2 separate regions of the Homo sapiens genome follow, and region 1 is linked to region 2. A link means that fine-mapping ties the variant in region 2 to the plasma level of a protein whose gene starts in the linked region. Region 2 holds a variant in brackets. A gene starts in the other region. All regions are shown on their reverse strands.

Region 1 (8,305 bases), not on the chromosome of region 2:
CCCAAAAATAAGTTTAATTTTATATATTTTTGGCTTTATTTCCCAGTTTCCTGGGTGTCCTAGAATCCTCTCTATTGATCTCTCTGTATCTGCAGGTCACAGGGTGACTAAGGGTGCAGGAGAGTCACCTAGGGCCTCCTGGTGCCAAGGAAATGAGCAATGGAAGCAGGACCCAAGCTGGGTGAGTGGGCACAAGGAGACAAAGGCCCTGCCAGATCTGGGAAGCCACCTCCTCCTCCAAAAAAAGTTATATTCATACATGGAATTCTATTCAGCAATGAAAAGGAATGGTTACTAATACACTGAGCAGCATGGATTACTTACAACCATATGCTAAACTGAAGAAAAATAAAAGGCAATACCAAGTAGATATGTTTATTTCCATCTTAATAAAATCATAGAAAATACAAGTTTAAGCTTAAGTGACATAAAGTATATCAGTAGTTGCAAGAATGCCAGGTTGTTGGTGTGCTTGACTACAAACAGGTATGAGGGGTTATGACATTTAATATCTTGATTGTGATTTTGTTTACATGGGCTTATATAATTATCAAAATAAATAGAACTGTACACTTAAAGATTCAAATTTTACTATAAATTATACATCAATAAAATCTATTTAAAATTTTTTGAAATAAATAAAAACATGAAAACAATAGAAAAGAAACATGGACAGATTGAGGAAGCAAACATTGCAACTTCAGGAGAGTGGACACAATCTCATTTGTTTTATCCACCACCAGTTTAGAAGCTGTATGTGCCTGTCTCAACTCAGTACCCAAAAAATATTAGTTGAATTAGTGAATGAAACCTAAAGGGACTAAAGTTTAGCCAAGGCTATCTCAGATAACACAGTCCTTTAGGAAATTTGTCTTCCATATACAGCACAACGGTTGCCTTGATCCCACTCCAACCCTGAGGACCAAATCTCTTGTTCCTTTTCTTAAGTATTCTGTGACATATCTGCACCACTGATCATCACATGTAACTTGCACACTCTCTGTCTATTTGCATTTGTAATTCTCTGTGTTTAGAAAATAAGTGTATCAAGGCACAAGGCTGCACTTTTCCTTAAATGTTTAAGGAGAAAATGAGGGAGCTAAAGGAGAGTGGAATTTATCTGCTAGGTATGAAGCATTTAAACAAAAAGAGAAGCATGAATATTTCCAATGCTACAACAACATTGGGAAGGAATATAATGAGAAAAATTGTCAACATGACAGTTAATCCAACTTAGATATGATGTTTTGTTTTGTGTTTCACTGAGCCTATCATATGCAGGAAAGGCACATTTATCATGATCCTTGCCTCCTAAAAGCTTAAAAATGTGAAATGAAAGACTCAAGTAGCTGCAACACAGGGTAGGAAGTGTTGCATGCACATAACAGTTGAGGGGCTCTCTGGGTTCAGTATGGGTCAAGGAAGATCGTTGGAGGAAATGACATCAGAAATGGGCTTTGAAGGTTGAGTGCTATATAAAAAGTGGAGATTCCAAGAAAAACATTCCAAATTAGAATTTGGTTTTTATTAACAAATGTTTATTATGCAGAAAGAGAAACAATTTAAATGGAGAGTCGACGGGATGGCATCACTATATTGTACTAGGCTCCTGGGTTGCTGGGTTCTTAACACAATGGGGGAGTCAGGGGGAAGAGTCTCACAGGATGTCCTGATATGAGCTGTGAAGGAACAGGAATGGGAGAAACCCTGAATAAGTTGGAGGTGGTAACTGAGGATAAGGTGGAGTAGTCAATAGAGAAAAGCTAAGAGAGTGAAAAATGGAATGTGAAATAAGAAACTGGGAGGAGAGGAGGAAATACAAAAAACTCACCAGTGCTTCTTAAACCATAACACAAGGACTATTAGAATCACCAAGGGCACTATCACTACCAAGGCAATCCAATTCATGGAAAAGTGGTGTCCTGCACATATTGGAAAGATACATGGATGCCATTTTAAACTCACTGCTGATTCTATTCCATCTATTGATTTCCTTACTTAACATATGCATTGGATGAGTTGCATCAGTTATCCTATTTCAGTCACTCTATTCCAAAACTTACTCAAGGAAGGATTCCTCATTTCCCCTTAAATCTCTAGTATCCATGTATCCCTTAGGTCTTACTCCACTATTCTTTAAATTACCCTATACATTTCTTCCTACAATCCCTCACCTAGGTCTGCTATCCTCAAAATTTCCTCTCCCCTAACCTCTAGGCTCAAGAACCACCTACCTACACTTCCAACCTCCAGTCTTACCCCAGTAGAGGATGATGTCCTGGCCTCCTAGACTGCTGTGTCTCACTCGACAAGACAGGCCAGCAGGCTCCTCAGATGCCACCTCCAGGATCACCTGAAGATACCATGTCCCATCAGCATTAGGAAGAATATCACCATGTTTAGTGCCCAGTTGCTCCTGTTCATTCCGCATCCATGTCACCCAAACAGGCTTTGGGTAGAAGCCGGAGGCATGACAAACCAGCAACAGCTGGCCAGACCCAAGGCTGGGGCGACTGGACAGCCAGGCTTCTGGCCTCACTGCAGAGAGCAGAAAAAGTGTTCTGATGAAGAAACTTACACACAACTTACATCCACATACACACATCCACATGAATATGCACAGTTATCTTTTTCCTGCCTCTAAGAAACTATTACCCAGCAACCCCCCTGCTTCTTGTCCTCTTTCTTGTCCTGAGTTTGAAGGGTGGGAACAGAAGGGGCAGTACTTGAATAGAAAAATCTTAGAGGAAGGGGCTGAAACTACTGACCTTGCCTGTGTACATACATCTTCCCTGCATCCAGGAGACCCAAGAGAAATCGGGGGCAAGTGCTTCTTATGAGATTATACACTGTTTCTGTGACGCCTTCATACTGATGATTGAGTAGATGACAGACACTTTGGGCCAAACTTCCACAGCCTGGAGATGGCACCCATGTTGTATTCTGGAAACTCAGTAAATCTAATCCGTTGAAAGCTACCTGAAAGAAGCCTTCTGGGCTCTTTCCAGAATGCAGCTCACAGCCCGCTTTCACCTGTACTTCAAAGGGATCTGGAGGAAGGGAGGAATGAGAAAAAGAGTTCAAACAAAAAAGTGAAAACAACAGTATAAAAACCTAGGGCTGTATCAGGAAGTGAAGCAAGAAAGTTTTACATGGATGTGAGAGTGAGCCAAAGACATATTTGATCAGAAACAAGAGAGAAAAATTGCTGGGGATAGGGAAGGGGACAATAAGAGATAAATGCCTTGAATTAACAAGAAAAAGTGGCCAAGGAAGATGTGGAAAAATGATAGGTGAGCCACATAATATAGGATAGAGGGTGAAGGGGGAGCCTTTGTGAGGGAGGTAGGAGGATAGCATTCCATGACGCATGAAATTGGTCATAATGGTCATTGAACTGTGGACATAGATCTTTGAAGAAATTGAATGGGGGAATAGATTTTATTTTAAGGGAGTCAAGCACAGAGTGGGACAGCTGTGTATCTCTGGATTGTAGGATACAGAGGGAGACCACAGGTGGAAGATAACAAAGCACAAGAAAAAAAATTCCAAAAATAGCAAGAGCCTAGGAAATTTGAGGGAGTCAACATCAGGAATATCCCTTAAAAGGTTCATCTATGCAGAATTTTATGGTGGGATGGGATAATGGGAAATGGCCCAAAAATTAGTAGAGAATATTTCCCTGAAATAGAACATTCTAAAGAACTCCCATAATTTAGATGATTGAACTTACATTTCGAGTAATCTTGACTTGCATGGTCTTGAATCTCCCGAGTTAATCCAAAGAGGTAGAAACGAAATAACAACTCTAGGTCTGACAACTCTTCATTGCTGAAGTTGCCCTTGGACCAGTTATGCAGGAAAATTATTGTGCCTGATTCACTGTCCCAGCCATGAGTCTGCAACTCGTCCAGCCATCCTGAGCCCTGACCTCGTGCCCAGGATTGGTTGACAAATGAGAAGATCTGGATGACATGGAAGGAGACGTGTTCCTGGGATGCTTTTGGTGGAAGAAGGGCAAGTAGTGTAAGGAAAAAAAAAAAAAGAGAGGCAAGGAAAATGGAGAGAAAATGGAAGGTGAACCAGTTACCACAGAGAAACATTAATGACTACTTTAGCTATACCATTTTCCTTACACAGAGCCCCATGCTCTGCCACCATCCTCTAAAAGAGTAAACTGGACCTGGAGAGAGGTATGCTCAAATGGCAACCATTCTGGCTTCTTCATTGATCCATCTTGGGAAAGCCCATCATGCTCAACCCAGATACATGTAACCTTGCAGCTGACAGAGATGTTCATACTATCTGCATTGTCACCACCGGGGAGGAGAAGAACTAGCAGCGGAAACTACAGAAACAGCATGTCATTTGCAGTTGTTTCCTTCTCTCAGAAAAGCCATTTGCTGATCTCTGTTCTTAGCAAACTTATCCCTCTACATCTATATTCTGACTTCCTTCTACCAACAGACAATCTTCCCCATCAGCCACTGACAGCAACTAAGACAATCTGCTTCCCTTAACCTTAGGCCTCCTACTCAATCTCTCATTTCCCCATCTGCTCTGAACTAAAGTTACTCTCTTCCCTTAGGATTTTAGCTGCTCTCCCACTAAGCTCCATCTTATCTACTTCCCTTCCTCAACTGCCTTAGACAAAGTGGTGCGTGGCATTGAAAGGTTGCTTCATCCCTCTGGACCTTGCGTGTCATTTGTAACATAAAAAGGAGAAACCACATCATTTTCCTGGGCCCTGATTGTTTTAACGGAAAATGGAGAGGAAATGGAAATTGAACCAGTTACCACAGAGAAACATTAATGACTACTTTAGCTATAACATTTTCCTTACACAGAGCCCATGCTCTGCCACCATCCTCCAAAAGAGTAAACTGGACCTGGAGACAGGTATGCTCAGATGGCAAGCATTCTGGCATCTCTATTGATCCATCTCGGGAAAGCCCAGCACACTCTACCCAGATACATGTAACCTTGCAGCTGACAGCGATGTTCTTACCGTCTGCATTGTCACCACCTGGGAGAAGAAGAGCTAGCAGCAGAAACTGCAGAAACAGCATGTCATTTGCAGATGTTTCTTTCTCTCAGAAAAGCTGTTTGCTGATCTCTGTTCTTAGCAAACTTATCCCTCTGTACCTATATTCTGACTTCCTTCTACCAACAATCTTCCCCATCAGCCGCTGACAGCAACTAAGAAGATCTGCTTCCCTCAACCTTGGTCCTCCTACTCAATCTCTCATTTCCCCACCTGCTCTGAACTAAAGTTATTCTCTTCTCTCAGGATTCCAGCTGCTCTGCCACTAAGCTCCATTATATCTACTTCCCTTCCTCAACTGCCTTAGACAAAGTGGTGTATGGCATTGAAAGAAAGGTCATTTTGTCCCTCTGGATTTTGCATGTCATTTGTAAGATAAAAAGGAGAAACCATGTCATTTTTTCAGTTCCTGCTTGTTTTAATAGATCACAGTTCTTCCAGTTTCTCCACTTAACTTTGCCTCCACTCTCCATAGTGTCCCCTCTTCTCATCACTCCATTCTTTCTTTCCCCCTTTTGAATGTCCTCAAAGTTTTCTCTTTCCAATTTCACCTCTTTTCACCCATCTTTCTTATTTCCTCATTCTCACTGATTCTTTTATAAATTGGAGACGTTGCTTTTTACATCTTCCAAGATTTCCCTGCACAATTATATAAACTACAGTCCACTCTACATTATCCTTAGAGATTAAATTGCAGCCATTCAGAATGCATAGGACCATAACAAATATAAAGAAGCCCTTCTACTGCATTTAATCTGTATAGTCATTCACTAAAAAATTACATAGTACATGGTTGATACCAGTGTCTTACTAGGCATATAAACACACAGAGGTTAACAATGTAATCTCTTCTATCAAAGAGTTTTAAACTGCAGATGTTTAAACAAAAAATTAAAATGCATTGTGATTTTAATTTCAATGTATAGAATCCCAGATACAAATCTACTTAGAACTATATTCTCTAGAGCAGCATTTTGACTGACTAACCCCCTGGGAAGTTCATAATTTGAAGTCCTGGAAGAACAGCATGCATCTCAACTAAATACTGAAAATTCTGTACAGTGTGGAATGGTATACGATTGTGATAGTCAGAACATGCAGCTTTTCAAGAGGACTCATACATGGGGAGACCACAAAAATCCAAATTTAAGTTGTTTTGTGATCTGACCAAAACACATTGTATAAAAAGGGCAGCATTTGTCAATGTTTGATTTAAGTAGTTTATATGAAGTATTCAGTGACTTATCAGTGACCCTGGCTGGTTAATATGTGTAAATACATGAACACAGTTTTTTTGAGATCCAGGAAATACATTTATTATTATAGTGTTTCTTAAATCATATTAATTATTCACTGAATGCATTGGAGCAGTCACTTAAAATCTGGGCATGAATTTGTGCTAGGCACAATGACTCATGCCTGTAATCCCAGCACTTTGGGAGACCAAGGTGGGAAGATCACTTGAGCCCAGGAGTTTGAGACCAGCCTGGGCAACAAAGTTAGACCTCATCTCGATAAAAAAATTAAAAAGTTGGCCAAATGTGGTGGCACATGCCTGTAGTCCCAGCTAAATGGGAGGCAGAGGCAGGAAGATCTTTTGAGCCCTGAAAGTCAGGGCTGTAGTGAGCCATGTTCATGTCACTGTACTCCAGCCTGGGTAACAGAGCAAGACCGTGCCTTAAAAAGGAAAATCCCATTTGTAACATTGTTTCTGTTTTAAATTTATATTTATTCTATGTATTTACTGTGTACAACATGATACTTTGATATATACACTATTTCTTAGGTTTGTCAACGTTAATAGTGAGGCCAGAAGTCATTCTCAATGAGCTCTTCCTATCATGGCCACAGATATGTGGCAATTTCTATGAACTATAATATCTTTAAGAGCAATACCCAGTTCAAATCCTACCCAAATCATTCATAAGCACTAGGTGTTATCTTTGCTCATCTTGTGCTGTTAATGGCAAATACTTGGTTTGTGGTTTTAGAAAACAATAGTAGATACCACATTATGTGTTTATTCACATTTTTTTCCATGTTCCTACAGGAAAGATGCAACTGTCCTATTTCCTAATAGTTGGGTTAAGGTCATGGACTGAGTTCTGGGCAATGGAATGTGTGGTGTTGGAAGCATTAGCCAGCTCCAGTCCTGACCACTGAAAATATCACATCTGATCATCTTACCCTGTGGTACCAACTTGGCAGTCAAATTTCTAAATGGCAAGACTATGAGATGGAGAAGAGCAGCCTGATCTACATGCAGTTTAACTGCATGAGAAATAAACTTCATTGTGTTAAGCCTCCAAGTTCTAAAGTTTATTTATAACTGCAACATAACCTAGCTATATTGGATAATATTATAAAACCCAGTAAGTATCATCCTTTTTGCCCTCTTGAATTCAGAAGCAAACAAGTTGAAAATAACATGAGATAGATGGATCTAATGGTCAATCTTGACTTCTGATAGTGCCACTAGATAATTTGCTTTAAGTGTGTAATCCAAGTGATCTTGCTCATACTGGACCCTAAATGGAGTGGCCTTCTCATTGTTATGGACTGAAAGTTTGTGTACCCTCCCAAAGAAAAAAAAAATCACATGTTGAATCCCTAACTCTCAGTGTGATTATATTTGGAAATGGGGCCTCTAAGAAGTAATGTCAATCTCATGTCTAAACGGTAAGACCCTGATCCAATAGGCTTAGTGTCCTTATAAGAAGAGACACTGGAGTGCCCTTCCACTTTCCTTCTCTGTCTCTCTGTCTCTCCCTGTCGCTCTCTGTCTCTGTGTGTGTGTGTGTGTGTGCACCCACCATGGAAAGGCCATATGAGCTCATAGTGAGAAGGCAGTTGTCTGTATAAACCAGGAAGAGAACCTTCACTAGAAACTGAGTCTTCCAGATGGAGACTTTGAACTTCTAGCCTCTAGAGCTGTGAGAGAATAACTTCCTGTTGTTTAAGCCACCCAGCTGATTGCCTTGTGTTAGCACAGCCCAAGAAGACTAATACACTCACTTATTTCAGGCAATGCTGATAAAACCCTAAGTTCCCCACCTGAGCAGCTGTTCCTGTGAGAGCCAGGGCCTGGAGGAGGAGAGCAAGACTGAGCCTTTGGGGAGCAACTTGCCCAGAGAGGTAAAGGGCAGTAGGAGGTGCTGATATATACTTGCCCAGTTTCCCTCCTGAATTTATCAGTGAGATAAATCAGTCTGTTTTCAGAGGAAAGATTAAGGGGTGAGGAAAAAAAAACAAAAAGTATTT
Region 2 (8,330 bases):
AGGATAGGGATGTAGGGCCACAGCCTTTGCTCCTGGTGGGCTTAGCTCTGCCCTGGCTTTTGGCCCTACAAGGCGAGAAGCCCCTTGCGTTTAGTGTCCTGGATTTACAGGGACCCCGCACTCCGCCAGCTCCCGCTTCCGCACCTTTGTCTAGGACATTCCACTGCCTGGAATGTCTCCTCTGTCTGCCTGGCCATTCCCTCCCCTTCTCCAGGTGCAGCCAGACACCCCTCCCAGTCCCAAAGCCCCCTTCCCCATCACACACAGCCCTGAGGCTGTACACATCTCCTCTGCTAGCCTGTACCAGGCTGTAGGCCAGGCCACACCACATCAGTAGTGAGTGGTCGTCGGCAGCTTTCAGGCGCTCAATGGGCTTCTCTTGAGGTTCCCACCACCTTGGGCAGGTTGAGGGGGTGAAAAGATACCTGGCCAGGGGTCAAAGAGATAGGTCAGACAACAAGGGGTCAGTCGGGTCTAAAGAAGCCCACAGGACTGGGCACAGTGTCTCATGCCTGTAATCCCACCTTTCTGGGAGGCCGAGGCAGGAGGATCACATGAGCTCAGGGTGTAGTAAGCCATGATCGTGCCACTGCACTCCAGCCTCAGCAACACAGTTAGACCCCGTCTTCAAAAACAAACAAACAAACAAACAAAAAAAAAAACAGAAAAACAGAGAGGAGGCGGGGGTAACTCTGAATCCAGGAGATAAGGGCTTAGTTAACTGGTTAGTTGGTTAGATAGTAGGTGAGTTTGTTCACTCATTTGTGTCCTCCACTTGGGCTGGAGATGGAGTGACTCTGCTTCCTCCTCCGAGCAGCTGCTGGGCCCTGAGGGAGGACTGACCAGGCTGGCCCTGAACCAGGTGGGAAAACATATTTAATTCTCACCCTGCACCAGGAATCAGCCCATTACAGTCCCCAGGCCAAATACAGCCTGCCACCAGATTGGAAAACAATCTAAAGAAGATTTCATGACACATGAAAATGATATGAAATTCACGTTTCAGTGTCTATAAATAAAGTTTTATTGGAACACAGCCACACCCATTCATTTATGGCTGATTTTGCCCTGCAAAAGCAGTTGAAAAGCTATAGCAGTGACTGTCCGGTCCACAAAGCCTAAAATGTTTACCATCTGGCCCTTTGCAGAAAAGGTTTGTTGCCTGGTATCCTAGGCTCTCCAGCCACCATGCACCCAGCTGTCGCCTCTGCTCCAGCGCTGTTTCCGGTTTATGATGTGGAGTGAACAGAACCTCCCTCAGAGCATGGCGGTGAGGACTCCAGGTTTACCGTCGGCTGCTGGGCGGCATGGGTATCCCCAGGTCATGCTTTCTTAACTCCAATACACAGAAGCTGAGCACTTGTAGAGGCTGCTCTGGGCCTGGTAGAGGGCTGGCCTGATACCCAAGGTCTGCCCCCCAAGGGACACACACGGAGTTGGGGCATGGAGACCATGAAGTTGGAGGGGCACAGAGGAGAGACAGGAGCCTGACCTGGAATGCACAGATGGCTCCCAGAGGGAGTGATACTCAAACTAAGTCTTCTTTTAATTTTTAAAAGACAGAGTCTCTCTCTGTTGGCCAGGCTGGAGTGCAGTGGCTCACTGCAGCCTTGAACCCCTGGGCTCAAACAGTCCTCCCACCTCCACCTCCCTAGTAGCTAGGACTACAGGCATGCACCACCATACCCAGCTTATTTTTTAATTTTTTGTAGAGATAGGGTCTCACTATGTTGCCCAGGCCAGTCTTGAACTCCTGGGCTCCAGCAATCCTCCCAATGCAGCCTCCCAAAATTCTGGGATTACAGGCATGAACCGCCACATCTGGAAGCTAAGTCTTAAAATATAAGCAGAAATTATCCAGGAGGAAGGAGCAGGGACAAGCCTTGCAAGTGGAGAGAACAGCTTCAGCAAAGCTCAGAGGCTGAGAGTGGCAGGTCTGGACCTGGTTGGTGGGGAACTTGTAGAACCAGGTGATGGGGGGCTGTGGGCAATGAGAGCTCACCCTTCATCACCAGCCCCACCCACCACCTGGGTTTGGCCCAGGCTGGCAAGGGTGCCTGCCGAAGGCAGATATTGGCATCTGGCAGGGTGAGGTGGGGCATTGAGGGCAGAAGAGGGGGTGCCTTCAGGACCCCACCGCTGGCCAGCAGGGACACTGCAATTGGAGGAGCCAGATGGTGGGCAGGGCCTGGGGGCTCATCCCAGCAGGGCTGGGGTGCCAGGGCTGGGGCCGCCTGGTCCTGCCCCTGCCCCTGGGGCAGCCGGCAGAGTCCAGAGATGAGGCAGGCTGCCACAGGCGGGTAGCTGGCAACAGAGGCCTATTCTTCAGGATTTAAAAAGTCTCAAAAGGCGTCCAACTTTCCTTCGTTAGATGCTCCGGGATGTTTCCCCGTCAGAGGCTGCTCAAGATACCGGGCTGATAAGGGCCCGATTGAAGGAAGCTTAATTATGGCCCCGAGATGTTGGGGTAAACAGTCGGGAGTGTTTGTTTTACCGCCTCCTCTCTGTGCTAATGGGGGCACAAGCTAGGTGCCAGCTAGGGGGACCCAGTGACCCCAGGCTTTGTGGGTTCCCCTCACTGTCTCCCCATGGAGCGGGCCTTGGGGAGGGAGGCCGCTGGCCAGAGTTCGGCATCTCTGCAGTGTGGGTGCCAGGCTCCACAACCTCCTGCCCATTTGGCCACAGGGTACTCACCTGTCCGTGACAAGGATGGACATCGGGCATTAAAGGAGCTGTCCGTGTTGGTGCCTGGCATGGAGTGAACGCTGGGTGAATTCTGGACAGCAGCGGCAGCCTGGGGCTAGGGGCAGCTGGTAGCAGGAGTTTCCCTGGCGCTGTCCTGACCTTGACCCAGGCCACAACCCCCCAGAGGATGCATCTGGCTCCTCAACTCCATCCCGGGACCCCTGGATGGGCAGGGAGGTAGACCGGGGCTCGGCCTCTCAGCACCGTCCCCCATTTACCCCCACACCCCATCCCAAGGCCAGGATGTTCCTGGGGTGCCCAAGCCTGGTAAAGCACCCCTCCTGTGGGCATCACAACTCCAGGGGATCAGGGGCCACCATCCTGTGTGCCCTCCCTGGCGTGTGCCCACCTCCTACGCCCTCCCCCAACACCCACCACAGGCTCCCCCTGAGTGAGGAGTCCCAGGAGTAAGGGGAGCCCACTCTGTCACCCTGCACTCCCTCGAGGGCCCAGGGGCTCCAAAGGGCACAGCTCAGCTTTATTTAAGGGAGCAGCTCTGCTCAGGGGAAGGGGGCAGGGGGAGTGGGAGGAAAAGGATGGTGCCCCCTAGACATGCGTAGAGGCACACTCACCCAGACACACACACACACACACACACACACACACACACCCTCACCATGTACTGCCCAGGCCGGGCCAGGCCTTCTATTCCCTCGGCATCCAGGAATCTGCAGCTCTGCTCCCTGGCAGGCAGGGGTCACCGGCTCAGGGGGTCACAGGCTCAGGGCACCCCCCTACCCCGTGTGTGTGTATTTGCTCATCCACACACATAGGCCAACACGGTGCCCGTAAGTGTCTGCACCATGTGCCTGGGAGGGAGCAGGAGGAAGGGGAGACCAGGCAATCCATATTTTGGGTCCCTTGCGTGAGGCGGGAAGGGCACAAGGGGGCCGTTTAGGGTCACTCCAGCAGGACCCAGGCCCTCCGTGGCCTGGGCAGGTGCTCACATGACAGGCTCCATCGGAGGAGCTGTGGGAGTCTCTTGGGAAAGGGCCACAGTTCACCCTTTGGCAGATGTCACCGCCCCCAGAGGCTCGGAGCCCCCCTCGCTCTGTGGCTGTCCTTCAGGCTGGGGTGACCAGCCCCCCGCCAGGCCTTCAGCTGAGACCAAGAAGCCATTTTGGTCCGTGATGAGAAGAGGAAGTTCCTGCAGCCCCAAAACAGAAACAGGAAGCTGGGAGGGGGGCACAGGGATAGGGAACGGGAAGGGGACGCAGGCACCCGGCAGATGCACCCCAAATATGGGGCCTTCCTGGGGCCCACAGCAGCAGCC[A/G]TGTCTGGGTGTCTCTGCCCAGTCCCAATGCTGTGGGCCTCATCTGGGCCCAGCTGTGCCCACCAGGAGGGCAGACTCCCTGGGGACCTCAGATGCCCGCCCGCTCCCTGCCTGAGTGGCTCAGTTGCCCAGGCTTATCTGGCTCTGACTGAGAGGGCTCTGTGAGTGGCTGGAACCCCTCTGTCCACCCAGATGTGCCTGGCCACGTGCCTCTCCTTGGCCCCCAAGCGTAGCCCTGTGGGATTCTCCGCAGCGCTGGCCTGACTCCTTGACTCAGCAAGTCCAGGTCACCCTCTGTCCCCACCTCTGACCGAGCCCCCTGGTCGTGAGTCTGTGCGGCCGCCTGTTGGGTTCTGCTGTTCGCCACTGAGTCCCAGCCCTGGCCGTTTCCCCAGCTGTGATGTGACAGGGTCCCAGGCCCTCACCCAAACTTGGTAACAACACTCAGGACTGCCTGCTCAGCAGAGGTGGAGCCTGGACTCTGTTCCCCGGGGCCCCCTGCCTCACACTGTGTCCTGACCAGCCTGCCCTTTGCAGACCCCTCCTGCTCTGTGAGATGAGAGATGGAGTGTCTGAGAAACGTGCATGGGTCCCAGCCCGTTGTGCCCCCAAGCGGAGGGACGACAGGATCTAGAACCACGCACCAACCTCCGGAAGTGGGGCAGCTCCCAGTTCACGCAAGGGCGAGCTAGGCTGGGGCCACGTGGAAGGCAGGACAGCAGCTCCCACTCAGGGTGGGCATTGCCTGTGGCTCCTCGCTGGGTCTGGAGGCTCCTTCAGGAAGACTCTGGGGGTGAGGGAGCGGGGGCGGGAGTCAAGGGACCAGAGAGGCACATGTCACCAATTTCAGTTCTGCCCCAGCTGGCCTGAGGCAGCTCGGGACTTCCCAGGGTGGAAGGATAGGTCCGGGGGCCAGGCTACTTGGAGGCAGGGCCAGGTCTTGAGGACCCCCTCCCCAGCCCAGCTGTCTGCCGGGGAGGCAGCTCTGGGTTCCTGGAGTGGGCTGGCTACGGAGGTGTGTGCCTCCCTGGCGGCCCTCATCTCTCCCGGAGCCCTAGAGCAGGTCTTTCTAAGACTTCCCACTCATCAGCCCCGGCCCAAGATTATCACTACAAAAGACGTCCTTGGCCCACTGTCCCCTCAAAATGAAAGCTTTAAGAACAGCTGCCCAGAGGTGTCTGAGAAAAACTCCAGGATGAGAGTGAGGGGTACCAGGCCGTCAGCTCTCCCCAGGCTGAAGGATGAGGTGGAAACCACGAAAGCCCCCAAAACAAAGCCATCTTCTCCACACCTCCAGGCTGTTCCCTAAAGAAGGAAAGCGGGGAATGGGGTGGGGAGGGCGAGTGGAGCCCCCGCCTCGGGCGGTCAGCACCGGCGTCAGCAGGGAAGCAGGCCCCTGGCCAGGGAGCGCATCTGACCGGACCGACCGTGTTCTTGGGAGATCAGTTGTGAAACTTGCATCAAACCCCCAAACCACAAAAACGGCCAGTTTTCCCAGCTCTGTTCTCATGCTTCTCAGACCAGCCGAGGAGTCTTCAGCATCTCCAGCCGAGAGAAGCCAGGCCAGCTGCCAGCGCCGGGGGAGGAGAAAACCCCAAGTGCCTGGAGACCCGAGCCCCAAGTTTGCCTGAAGCACCCTGCTCCCTTCAACGAGCCTGGGAATGTGAGGTCTGGAGAAAGGGTGAGGCCTGGGCCGGCTCCACTGCACCTGGAGCCGGGTGCAGTGGCTCACGCCTGTAATCCCAACACTTTGGGAGGCCAAGGTGGGAGGATCGCTTGAGCCCAGGAGTTCAAGCACAACGTGGGCAACATAGCAAGACCCTGTCTCTACAAAAAATACAAATACTAGCCCAGTATGGTGACACATGCCTGTAATTCCAGCTACTCAGGAGGCTGAGGTGGGAGGATCACTTGATCCCACTAGTCTGAGGCCAGCTTGGGCAACATAGTGAGACCCTATCTCTATAAAAAATTAGCCAGGCATAATGGTGCTCACCTGTGGTCCCAGCTACTCAGAAAGCTGAGGCAGGAGAATCACTGAGTCTGCTAGTTTGAGACCAGCTTGGGCAACATAGTGAGACCCCATCTCTATAAAAAGTTAGCCAGGCATGGTGGTGCATGCCCGTAGTCCCAGCTACACAGGAGGCTGGGGCGGGAGGATCACTGGAGCCCAGGAGTTTGAGGCTGCAGTGAGCTGTGTTCGTGCCACTGCACTCCAGCCTGGGCAACAAAGCAAGACCCTATAATTAATAAATAAATAAATAAATAAATAAATAAATAAATAAATGGAAAAAGAAAACTGGAAATCAGAATAGAAGGACCCAGAAGCTGCCAGGGCCACCTCAGAAAGAATTCTGGAACACTGTTGCCTTGGGAAGATAACATCTGGCTGATGGAAGGTCAGAGGCAGGTTACCAGGGAAAGACTCCTGTTTGAAAAGAAGGTCACCGAGGCATCCCTCGTGTCTTCCCACTGCATTTGGTGCACAGCACATGACTCTGGTTCTCTCTCATTCAGGGCCTGGTTATAGCAGAAAGTCTGGCTCTCACTGAGCAAGGACCCAGATGGGGACACTCAGAGAGGTGGGAAAGAATCTCCCCCACCCCGCCAAGGAGGGATGCAGCTGTGCTGTAAGTGATGGTTAAAGCCATCTTTAAGAGAGGCAGGGCGCCATGGCTCACTCTTCTAATACCAGTGCTTTAAGAGGCTGAGGCAGGAGAATTGCTTAAGGCCAGGACTTTGAGACTAGCCTGGGCAACACAGCCATCTCTACAAAAAATACAGAAATTGGCTGGGCATGGTGGTGCCCACCTGTAGTCTCAGCTACTCAGGAGGCTGAGGTGGGAGGATCACTTGAGCCCGGCAGTTTGCAGCTGCGGTGAGCTATGATCGCACCCCAGCACTCCAGCCTGGGAGACAGAGTGAGACACTGTCTCTAAAAAGAAAGAGGGAAGAGAGAAGATGCCCGTAGCTGCTTTAGGTGACAAACGGCCTTGAAGCCGTGAAGGCCCACTCCCTTCCACAGGGAATGCAGCCCCATCTCCGCAAGCCAGTCTCTGAGGCCACCCCTTCTTGCTTCCTCCGCCAGATACCCTGCCCAGCCCCCTCCCCCAAAATGAAGCCAGGTGGGGACCCTCTGTGCTGCTGGCCTCCAGGCCCTGCCCTGCTGCCCCTGCCTTCAGCCCCTACCACCCACACCACCCTGAAACCCTTCCTCTCCCTGGCCACTGTACCTCTCCCAGACCGGCGGTTTGCCTCCAGCTGGAGCCTCCTGGAGGCTGGGAGAGAACCCCTCGCCTGGGTTAACTTTAGTGGTGATTCTAGAAGCAGGACGCTGCTGAGGAAAAGGCCAAACTGTAGCTTTGTCCGCTCCACCCCAAGCCTTTGCCTGAGCTGGAACTTTCCTCTAACAAGCCCTGTAAGAGGAGCTTCACACCATGCTCCCTGTGTGAACCATGGTACCTGTGAGTATTGGCAATGATATTATGCCAATGTGCTATTATGTGCATTTAGCATAAAAGCCACTTGTAAGTAGTCACGTGGCAAGACCACGGCTGGGGCCCAGAGAATCCTGCTGGGGGCCCATAACATGGGATTGGCCCCCTGGAGCTAAGGCCAGGGCTGCAGTGCAGGAGGCCCACACCCGCAGGGGATCCTGCCCGAGGGGCAGGGCTGGATGAGAGGCAGTGAGCCCAGAGCATAGACAGAAGACAGTGGGCGTGTGTGTGTCTTGGTCACTGCGTGCGTCTCTAGGTAACTTTGGTTTGCACGTTTGTGAGGTTGAGCGTCTGTCAATGTGAGTTTCCGTGCATGGCTGGTGACTGCATTTGTGTGTCTGTGCATGGGCCTGGGTACATCCGTGTCTCTCGGTGTGTTTATGGATCTGTTCATTCAATCACTGCCTGGTGCGGCCAGGCCCTAGACAGACTGGAGGGCTCGGTCCCTGCCCCATCAGGCCCACAGTCTGGCAGGAGGTGAGCAGGAAGTAGGAATTACACCCATAATCCCTAGGCAGGATGGTGACAGGGGGAGCTCACGCCTCGAGGGTGGAAGCCCCGAGACAAGGGACCTGCTGCAGCTTGGCACTCGGGGACCCTGGATGCTTTCATGAAGGACAGGAAAGCCGAGTGCCATAGGAGGCATGGGAGTTGTCATGGGGAGGAGAGTTTTCCAGGCAGAGGGGAGAGCATTTGCAAAAGCCGGGGCACTGAGGAGGGGTCGAGGCAGAACTGCAGGTGCTAGGAAGCCAAGGGGTGTGGGAGGTGAGGGCAGGAAGGACAGGAGCTAGACACGCAAGCCTGGAGGCCACCAT

Direction of the effects. Positions count from the first base shown, and alleles are read on the strand shown. Strength reflects both the effect of a copy and how common the allele is.
With allele A in place of G in region 2, the plasma level of the protein whose gene starts at base 5,211 in region 1 is higher (weak association).

What was found. PIP is the posterior inclusion probability: the model's chance that the variant is causal. The UK Biobank Pharma Proteomics Project read protein levels with antibody pairs (Olink). The fine-mapping took linkage between variants from a reference panel, not from the people measured, so its PIPs are less certain.
Region 1: it holds the start of CD1C, and the variant in region 2 is fine-mapped to the plasma level of the CD1C protein (UK Biobank, PIP above 0.99).

The regions. Positions count from the first base shown.
Region 1 is chr1:158,286,829-158,295,133 of GRCh38, reverse strand. It overlaps CD1C (CD1c molecule), which reads right to left and starts at 5,211. Exons shown (of 6, transcript NM_001765.3): 1 at 5,009-5,211; 2 at 3,734-4,000; 3 at 2,769-3,050; 4 at 2,260-2,538; 5 at 1,832-1,922; 6 at 360-1,679. The coding sequence starts at 5,069. The coding sequence ends at 1,658. It also overlaps a transcript of CD1B not described here. RefSeq lists an enhancer at 8,161-8,290.
Region 2 is chr19:33,264,356-33,272,685 of GRCh38, reverse strand. No RefSeq gene overlaps it. Among named protein-coding and RNA genes, the nearest start is that of CEBPA, 34 kb to the left of the region's middle. The variant A/G (reference allele first, on the strand shown) is at 4,019.